Linked DNA regions of Homo sapiens. The protein of the gene in region 1 interacts with the protein of each later gene in a pairwise test. Each region holds a gene or a part of one and is shown on either strand. Other genes may lie near its edges.

Evidence for each region. Proteins that work in one complex are often made in the same cells at the same time.
Region 2: the proteins of ZAP70 (region 1) and ASB3 interact in a two-hybrid assay, tested with the Homo sapiens proteins (one large-scale study listed by BioGRID).

Annotation. Positions count from the first base shown.
Region 1 is NC_000002.12:97,729,077-97,734,327, forward strand, and holds part of ZAP70 (tyrosine-protein kinase ZAP-70), read left to right. Parts: intron 1-3,806; coding exon 3,807-3,945; intron 3,946-4,048; coding exon 4,049-4,136; intron 4,137-4,220; coding exon 4,221-4,267; exon of another isoform or gene 4,268-4,467; coding exon 4,468-4,519; exon of another isoform or gene 4,520-5,251. UniProt on the Homo sapiens protein: Tyrosine kinase that plays an essential role in regulation of the adaptive immune response. Regulates motility, adhesion and cytokine expression of mature T-cells, as well as thymocyte development.
Region 2 is NC_000002.12:53,713,258-53,718,508, reverse strand, and holds part of ASB3 (ankyrin repeat and SOCS box protein 3), read left to right. Parts: intron 1-1,765; coding exon 1,766-1,943; intron 1,944-3,927; coding exon 3,928-4,125; intron 4,126-5,251. Other genes in the region: GPR75-ASB3 protein, read left to right, coding at 1,766-1,943, 3,928-4,125. UniProt on the Homo sapiens protein: Probable substrate-recognition component of a SCF-like ECS (Elongin-Cullin-SOCS-box protein) E3 ubiquitin-protein ligase complex which mediates the ubiquitination and subsequent proteasomal degradation of target proteins. Recognizes TNFRSF1B.

The DNA.
Region 1 (5,251 bases):
TGGACTGCAGACCTCTTTGGAATCCTACTGACTGCTCCTTTCACAATCCCCCAAAGCATATTCACCTCAAAGACTTTGCAGACAGTTATATGAGATCATGGTTGGTCCTGAACCTCGTCCTTAGAACCCTTTTCAGGTCAAGAAGTTATGATTTAGACCAGTTACCTCATTTTATACATAAGGAAACCGAGGCACAGCGAGGATAAGCAGTTTATTCAGGGTTTCACAGATAATCTGTGACAGAGCTGGGTGTTAGTCCTAGGTAGCAATTAACTGTAGAGTCAGAAATGCATTTGAATCCTGGCTCCCCCTCCTATCTCTTACCAACTCTGCAATTTAGGCAAGATACATAATCTTGTGCCTCAGTTTCCTCATCTGCAAAATGGAGATAACAATAGTGCCTACTTTGTGGGGAGTGCTGTGATTATAGGACAAATATGTGAGGAATTTAGAACCAATATCTTAATAAATAAATTGTAGCCCTTTTGTTTTGTTTTGTTTACAATCGTGAACCAGAGACAGATGTAGCTCTTATAGGTTCTATGTATTATTTTAAGAGCAGAGATACAAGTTGATTTTTTAGCCTGTACTTCTGGCTTAAGTGCAAGTTCCAACTGCAAGAACAAAGAACTGCCACTACCTAGCATTTTTTTTTTTTTTTGTAAATCAAGTAGAACTTATGGTACTGAAATATATGTGGTGATAACACCAATGTCTTAGCTTTTGTGGTTATTATCTGGGAATTTGCAGCTGCTCTTTATGAACTCACACATCTCTTTCCAAAGAGTGTATTGGTTAGCTTTTGCTGTGTAACAATGTGCTGTATTCATACCCTGAAATGTAGTGGCTTAAAACAATGGTCATTTACAGCCAAGTGTGATGGCTCACACCTGTAATCCCAGCACTTTGGGAAGCTGAGGCAGGCGGATCGTCTAATGTCGGGAGTTTGAGACCAGCCTGGCCAACATGGTGAAACCCTGTCTCTACTAAAAATACAAAAATTAGCTGGGCATGATGGTGGGTGCCTGTAATCCCAGCTACTTGGGAGGCTGAGGCAAGAGAATCACTTGAACCCAGGAGGTGGAGGTTGCAGTGAGCCAAGGTTGCACCATTGTACTCCAGCCTGGGCAACAAGAGCAAAACTCTGTCCCAAACAAACAAACAAACACCGATCATTTATTCACTCTTGTTTTGCTTGGCAATTTGGCTGGTTGCTTGGTAATTTGGGCTGAGTTCAGCTGGGTGCCTCTTCTGCTGGGTTTTTGAGCTTACTCATGTGGCCACAGCCAGCTGGAAGATTGGCTGGAGCTGGATGGTCTCTGGGATGGCCTCACTCACATGAATGGCTATTGGCCACTCATGTAGGGTGCCTTGGTTCTCCTCCATGGGCCTTCTCTAGCAGGCTAGCTTGGACTCATTCCCATGGTATTTGGAGAGCTGCCAGGAAAAGCAAGAGAGGGCAGGCCAACCTCAATGTTCAACCATTTTTCAAGCCTCTGCTTGTGTCATGTTTGCTAATGTCCTGTTAGCAAGGCACATGGTCAAGCCCTGATTCAGAAGACAGAGGAGGAGGCCCCACCTATTGATGGGAAGAGCTCCCTAATATTGTGGCTGTTTTCCCCCAGTATTCCACATGGAAGTTTAAATAAACAAATAAGGAGGAAATTATTAGTTCTAGAAGAAAGAATGAAAGAGACAGACAGACTTGGTGGCTCACGCCTGTAATCCCAGCACTTTGGGAGGCCGAGGCAGGTGGATCACGAGGTCAGAAGATTGAGACCATCCTATCTAACACAGTGAAACCCCATCTCTACTAAAAATACAAAAAATTAGCTGGGCGTGGTGGTGTGCACCTGCAGTCCCAGCTACTTGGGAGGCTGAGGCAGGAGAATGGCATGGACCCAGGAGGCAGAGCTTGCAGTGAGCCGAGATCACGCCACTGCACTCCAGCCCGGGCTGTGGAGCGAGACTCGGTCTCAAAAAAAAAAAAAAAAAAAAAGAGACAGAGGAGGGGAGATGGGAGGTTTGCTGTTTGCTGGTGAGTGGCTTGGCATGGAGTCTCTGTTGTCAGTTTAAAACTTCAGGTTGTGACCCTTAGGAGGTGTTTTCACTTCTCACAGTCCCTGGAGACCATCACCTCCAGGCCAGCCTGCCACCTGCCTCTGACTTCCACAGCTCTGAGACCCCCAGGGCCAATAGCCCTCCCTCCTCACTGGAAAGCTGCACTTAACAGGAGCTTGTGCCAGTGACTCAAAATAGAAATGTTTTGTGGGAGATGTTGACTGGTGTCACTGCGGGGTTTCACGTGACGGCGCTGCATCTGCTGTCCCAGCCTACTGTCTCTGTGGGATGTTTGTTTCCTAATTTGTGGTGGGTTCTCTTCCTTGCCCTTTTGTGTGCCCTCATTGCCCCCGCCCTGATTTCCCATCTCTCCATGTTATCTCCAGACTGTTGTGGGCTAGCCTGGGAACTGCCCCACCCTTCACTGCACTGTACTTCGGGGAACGTGCTGTCCAGGAATGGAGAGGATGGTCACAGCTGCACCTCTCTCCCTCACTCAGGGGACATTTCCTAAGGAAGGGCCTTATTGCAAGGTGGGCCCATGGCTGCCTTGCTCACTGCCATATCCCTGCGCTGAGAACAGTGCCTGGCCTGTCAGTAAAGACTTGTCCAGTGAATGAACATCCACAGGCAGGGCCAGGCCTGGTCTGAGAATTTGCACCTTGGAGGGTGCAGCTCGCAGGCCATCACAAGGGCTCTTCTGTAGTGCAGTGCAATCCCTGAGATCAGGAGTCGGCTGCTTCCGGCCTCCACAGCTTCCACGGGGCCAGCTGCCCTCCCTCCTCACTGTAAAGCTACACTTGACCCTGCAATAGAGGCTTGTGCCAGTGACCCCAGACAAAACTGTTGTGTGGGGGATGCTGACTGGTGTCACTGTGGGGCTTCATGCGAGGGTGCCGGTGTCTGACACTAAGTTGGTCTGTGTTGAGGGGGGATGTGTGTACTCAGGGCTGGAGCGGATGGGGGGACAGTTTCTTACCCCACAAATGCACCACCTTTGAGGGGCTCAATTCCCATCATAGACATGGAAGATTTATATATTTATATTGACAAAATTCCAGCAGAAGGCAATCGAGGGTCTCATTCTAGGAAAGGTCCATCTATTATGGAACTGGTCAGTCTCGTGATGAGAAAGTGACTTGTTTTGATTTGCACAGGGGTGCCCTGTAAGCTTGTCATGGAGCTGCGCCTACCTGTGTGGGTCTGTGTGGAAAAGGCTTTCTCTCCCCAGGAGAATGGTGCTAGGTCTACCTGTTGAAGGCTCTGGGTCTGTTGTAGAAGGCCAAGTGCCCCCCATGGTTGGCTGACTGTATGGCCGAGTGTACCCCCAATGAGTGCCTGTGGATGACTATCTCTCTGTGGATGGCAAGTGTCTGGCCGTGGATGGCCAACTGTTCAGCCATGGGGGACCAGGTGTTCCCCAGTGGATGGGTGTCCCCTCCTCCGTGGCTGGGTGTCCACCGTGGGGGGTCAGGTATTCCCCGTGAATGGCCATCTGTTGGCTCTTGGAGAACAGTGCATTTTCCTGGGAACACAGCCATGGCCCCTCCACCGCCCTCTGCCACTTGGCCCATCATCAGCAGATCTGGAGGTGATGGGGGCCTGGCCTGGCTTCCCCAGTCCCTGCAGCTTCTCTGCAAGGCTCTGAGGTGTGGAGCCCATAGGGTGTGTTGCGGGGGAACCGGGGCACAGCAGGAGGCCCCCAGGTGGCTCTAGGGGTTACATCCCCTCCCTTCCCCTGCCAGGCTGAGGCCGCGGAAGGAGCAGGGCACATACGCCCTGTCCCTCATCTATGGGAAGACGGTGTACCACTACCTCATCAGCCAAGACAAGGCGGGCAAGTACTGCATTCCCGAGGGCACCAAGTTTGACACGCTCTGGCAGGTAGGCTGCCCGTGCAACTTGTTCTGGGAGATGCCGTGCTCAGATGGGGTGCCGGGCTCTGGGGAGGAGAGGAGCCTCTCTGCTAGCTGCCTGCTCCCTGCAGCTGGTGGAGTATCTGAAGCTGAAGGCGGACGGGCTCATCTACTGCCTGAAGGAGGCCTGCCCCAACAGCAGTGCCAGCAACGCCTCAGGTGACGGCAGCAGGCGGGCGGGCGGTGGGCGGGGGCGGCAGGAGACCTGGCCCCCAGCCCTCACTGTCCCTTCTGCTCCCCCAGGGGCTGCTGCTCCCACACTCCCAGCCCACCCATCCACGTTGACTCATGTGAGTTGGGGGCACCTGGAGTGTGGCCTTGGGGATGGAGCTGGGGAGTGGCTGTGGGGGAGGCTGGGATGGAGGCTGGGGTGCCTGTGGAGCGGAAGAAGCTCTCTCTCCACTGTCTCTGGGAGTCCTCAGTGGATATAGGTCTCATGAGAGGGGCTGGACGTCCCCAGCTCAGGCCTTGCTGACCCTGTGGCCTTTAGCCTCAGAGACGAATCGACACCCTCAACTCAGATGGATACACCCCTGAGCCAGGTGAGCGGGCAGAGGTGGGGACGCGGGTTGGGGCTCATGCTGAGCCGAGATCAGGGTCGCTGTCAGGGCTGTGGGGTTTCACGGGGGGCGCTGTGGGCCGGGCCAGGCTGTGGCAGTTGGCTTGGTTAACACCTGTGCACACATGTGCCCACACCCATCACACCTGCCTGTGCACATGTACGTCCCAGTGTGTACTGACGTGCAGGGAGCACACTTGGCCTTGCCTGAGGCTCCCCAGACACACGTTTGTTGAGTACCTACTATGTGTCAGTCACGTTCCGAGGTCACTGTGTGTATGAGCCACCGAACCCTCCTGACATGCCTTATGAAGTGGCTATGGTGATTAACCTCACTTTACAGATGAGAGAGGGAGGGGTCTGTCTATGGGGATGTGAGGCAGTGGTAGAGGCGGGATGTGAACCCACGATGGGCCCCAGAGCTCACATTCCTAAAATGGTCTGCTGCGGGTGCTCCTGTTTCTCATGGGTGGGCCCAGACCTGAACATGTGTATGCACAGAGAAGACACATAGTTACATGTGCACCTAGAGGCTCGCTTTTGGAGGCCTCGTAAATGTGGCTGTGTGCTGCATACGCAGACAGGGACGGGCCCGGCCATAGGCGTACACGTACGAATGCACACACATGCACACCCCAGCTGGCACAGTAACGGTGCCACGTGGATACCAATGCACACGCCCCTAGAGTCCACCCTCATGTGGCTTCATGGGGCA
Region 2 (5,251 bases), about 44 Mb from region 1:
GGATCTCTGCTAAGACTGGTCTAGTGGTAACAAATTGTCTTATCGCTTGCTTGTCTGTAAAATATTTTATTTCTCCTTCGTTTGTGAAGCTTAGTTTGGTGGAATATGAAATTCTTGGTTGTAGTGTCCTCTCTTTAAGAATGCTGAAAATAGACCCCCAATCTCTCTTGCCTTGTAAGGTTTCTGCTGAGAAGTCCACTGTTCCTTTTGTATGTGATCTGACGTTTTTCTCTAGCTGCCTGTAAGATTTTTTCTTTAGTGTTAACCTTCAACAGTCTGGTGACTGTATGCCATGGTGATATTCACGTTCACAGAGAGTTCTCTGTATTGCTTCTATCTGGATGTCTTCCTCTCTGGCAAGATTAGGGAAATTTTCTTAAATTATGTCCTCAAATATGTTTTCCAGGTCATTTACTTTTTCTCCTTCTCTCTCAGGAATACCAATAATTCATAGATTTGGTTGCTTTACATTATCAAATATTTCTCAAAGCCTTTTTCATTAAAAATTTTTTATTTTTATTTTTATCTGACTGGGTTAGTTTGAAAGACTGATCTTCAAGCTCCAAAATTCTTCCTTCTGCTTGGCCTAGTCTATTAATAAAACTTGCAGTTATATTTTGAAATTCCTTAAGTGAGTTTTTCAATTCCAGAAGCTCTGATTGATTCCTTTTTAAGATGTTTATCTTAAGATGCCTTCATTTCCTGAATTGCTTTAGAAGTTTCTTTGTGTTTATTTTCAACCTTGTCTGGATCTTGTTGAGCTTCCTTGCAATCCTTGCTTTGAATTCTTTATCTGTCATTTCTGAGTTTCCATTTGGGTCAGGAACCATTGCGGGAACACGACTGTGATCCTTCAGTGGTGTCACTATATTTAGATTTTTCACAAATCCAAAATTCTTGGGGTAGTTCCTTTTCATCTGGAGATGTTCACACTTCTAATTTTTGTAATTATTTTCATGCAGGTGGGATTTTTTTCTTTTTCTTTCTTTCACTATAATATTATTGTTTTTCCCTTTCACATTTATGATTTTAAATATCAACTCAGAAACCTGTTGAAAGAGACCCTTTTTCTCTGATTGTAGGCATTATTTATCATGCAGTGGTTATGAAGAAAGAGATGTAATAGAGAGTATAGTCAATATTAGTTTTAAGGCGTGGCTCCCATATATGTCATATCTACTGATAATTTTTCATAAATCTTAGCCTGAATCAATTAGTGGCATAATTTGGATTTTATCTTTTTCAGCAGTTATCAGAAATATTATCCATGTTTGATAGTTTGCATTTTTCTTTTTAAATGTTTACTTATTGGGCCCCAGAATGCTTGTTGGAGGAGGGATTGGAATGAAATGTATCCTTCATTGAATAGGATTTTTGTTTTAGCTTAAAAATGAATTCTAAGATATGAATCACTTGTTTTCTTGCTGACGTAGAGGCAAGACCTTTTTATTTTTGATAGAGACAGGGTCTCACTATGTTGCCCAGGCTGGTCTCAAACACGTGGCCTCAAGCAATCCTCTGGCCACAGCTTCCTAAATTGCTGGGATTCCAGGCATGAGCTACCCTGTCAGTTTAGCGAAGACAATTTAAATGATTACCAAGAAGTTAGCAAAGTAAATATGTTTATATAACAACATCCAACATTCAGTGAAGAGGGAAAAGCTTACCGTGCTACGAAACCCTTTTATGGTAGTTCCTTTGAAATTTGTGTTGATTTTTTTAAGTATTAGGGTTATCTGTTAAATGTTTTATTTTGTACCCTTAGGTGCAAATGTCAATTGTCAAGCCTTGGACAAAGCTACACCCTTGTTCATTGCTGCTCAAGAGGGACACACAAAATGTGTGGAGCTTTTGCTCTCCAGTGGGGCAGATCCTGATCTTTACTGTAATGAGGACAGTTGGCAGTTACCTATTCATGCAGCTGCACAAATGGGCCATACAAAGTAAGTGTTAAAAACAGAAAATAAACATGGTCTCTTAATCAAAAGCTAATAAAGAATAAATCTGGGCTAGACCCTTCACCTCTAGGCAAAGTCTTTGATATTCTCTTCCCTACCAATCTGCTGGGTGAACAGATCTACCCCTAATCTGTCCTTCATGCTGTCTTTTGCTCCTACTATTCCTGCACTTTCATATTGTGAGGCAGAATTGCTACAGACTGGGTAGGCTCAGGGACTTTCTCGGGGTGTTGACTCTTCCCATTGATTTCTCTAGTTATGGCTGTATCCGCCGCCTCCTCCTCCCTAGTTTTATCCCAGGCATCTTTAAGCATCAATCTGATGAGGCCATCCATGTTACCTCTCTGACCCCAGAAAGCTTTTGAGTTTGTGATGCCTGTTGGAGTGTGTGCTAAGTAGTCCTCCCTGTCTTAAACCCTTTGACTGAACTTTTCTTGATCTAACCTCAAATTGGAGAGAGAGTAAATGGGGGTTCCAGGAATCTTAGAAGCTAGTAACTTGGTTATACCTGTGAGAATATGGCTACCTATCATAAATTGGCAGTCAATGATTTTTAGAAATATATGTGAGAATATGGCTACCTATCATAAATTGGCAGTCAATAATTTTTAGAAATACATGTTTAGAATCTTTAGAGCCATAATTCTATAATAGCACTTTTTATAGCTGCTATTAGTATTATTTAATTTAAAAAGTAATAGTAAAATATTCATTACTTAATTTAGTTTGTTTACATAGTAGGAAAACAGATTCTGCAATTTGGTCATTATGCCACTAGGTGACACAGTACTTTACTATTTCATTAATGATATTTGTAAGCATGTTTATGTCTTGTGGGAGAGTATAATTTTTCCCACCTACTTAAAAAAATTAAACACATTTATTAAAGTTAAGAGACATTAGACTATTTTAACAAAATACTTAGATTTAAAAATTTGATATTTTCCCCAATTCTTGATCATTTATTTAAACATAAGTGTTAGATATTGTACTCTGAACTTTAAATGGTACCAAAACTCTCCTGGGCATTTGTTCTCAATTTTGAGAATTCTCATTGTCACTGATGATTTTCTTTATAGCCTACTTCAAAGGTAACCCCTTTTGTGAGTGTAAGTTCTACTTAAATGTTATCTTAGACATACATTACATGAGGAAAAGTCACAAAGAGAAATGTAATACTATGAAAATACTTCAGAGTAGCCCTGTCTGTCTTTTCCCAGAAAGAAGGAATTTCCTGGCTTTAACTATACAGTTTTATTTTTAATTTTAGAAGGGTAGAATAGTCCTTTTTTCTTTCCAGTTGACTGCTAGAGGTAAGTTTACAAATAACCTAAGAACTTTTGTTTTAATTATTTTCTTAGAACTTTCTCTACCTAGGAGCCAGCTTCTTTATAAATCTGCCTCCATATTTAATGAGCTCACTTTTTTTTCAGATAATAGAATATTTTAGCACAAATTATAATTTCTTCCTGATGAAAACATTAGTCTTAATTTCATGCCAGTTATCATCTTTAAAAATTTTTACTAATTGGAAAAGAAAAACTAGTTGGTACTTTAAGAAGGAAAATAGTGCATTTTCTTGATGCCAGTTTATACTTAGTAGAATGATGTTTTAAATAATTTATTAAACCCTAAAATATCTAACATAAAATTTGAATTTTGGGGGTTAAGGTGGTGCTAGTAAGGTAATAAAATTAAAAGAGCACCTTTTCTGTTTACATATAGGAACATTAATTTTGTTTCAAATGTATTTAAAGACCTTTTTATTAAGCAATAATAAGTGTAACATTCTGGAGTAAATATATAGCATGTAATAGTTTAATGTTGTTGGTAGAAGGTACACCCTAGACAGAAATATTTCTTTAAATGAATCAGTTGGTAATTCTGAAAAAAATTGTGCTATAGAAATGTTGCCTACATTTATGCACATATACAAACACTAAATTCTCCTGAATTTGTGTATTTATAGAATCTTGGACTTGTTAATACCACTTACTAACCGGGCCTGTGACACTGGGCTAAACAAAGTAAGCCCTGTTTACTCAGCAGTGTTTGGGGGACATGAAGATTGCCTAGAAATATTACTCCGGAATGGCTACAGCCCAGACGCCCAGGCGTGCCTTGTTTTTGGATTCAGTTCTCCTGTGTGCATGGCTTTCCAAAAGGAGTATGTATATTTGCTATGTTTTTATTTTTTATTCTTTTTTGCTGTATGGAGATGTGTTTTGAAGTGACTTTCTTTCACGATGAAACTTAGTATCTCTGTTAGTGCTAAATTGCTATCTTGGAACACAAATAGGAAAAAAACTATGATGTTTCAGTCAAGCTGAAGCAGAAATGAGGTGATAATATCACATTGTTTTCCTTCCTTCTTTGGATCTGGATTATATTTTTAGTGTAGCAATCTTAGGGAATACGTACAATTTAAGTAGACGCAGAAATTTGCTGATATTTTTGGTCTTCAAAACAATTCAAGAATTAAAAATGGGGCTTTATCAAGTAAGGCAGTGACTGCTTCAGGTCATTTACCGTTTCAAATTTATAAGATATAAGCCTAAAAATTAAACTTTAGTTTTATAGATATTATTGTGTTTTTAATGTATTTGGTGGATAGCATTAAAAAAAATTTTTTTTTTTTGAGACAGGGTCTCACTCTGTGGCCCGGGCTGGAGTGCAGTGGCACCATCTTGACTCATTGCAACTTCTGCATCCCAGGCTCAGGTGATCCTCCCACCTCAGCCTCCAGAGTAGCTGGGTCTACAGGTGTACACCACCACTCCCAGCTAATGTTTTTATTTTTAGTAGAGATGGGGTTTCTCCATGTTGCCCAGGCTGGTCTTGAACTCCTGGGCTCAAGCAGTTCCCTTGCCTCGGCCTCCCAAAATGCTGGGATGTCAGGCATGAGCCACGATGCCTGGCTTTATATTATTTTTGGATGTGAGTCTAAATAATTAAGTTTTTAAACGCCCCCAAATTAATTATTTTTCTAATCTGTCATAATTCTGTGAAATAGACTAAGTGAAGAATTACTGCTGCCTTGTTAGTGTCTGGCCAGTAACTTTGTCTATAACACTCTTACAGTTTTAAAACACTAAGAATAAAGCTGTGTGTAAGAACAGCCATATTGAGTAATATCTGGTCATCCAATAATGGAATAAGTTATGAAGATAGATGCTATTGTGTTTAATGACACAGAAGAGGTTGCAGGCATACCTCAAATTGTATTGGCCTTCTTGAATTCACTATTATGAATCTCTATTTAATTTGAGTAGTTATCAAGAAATTATTTACTA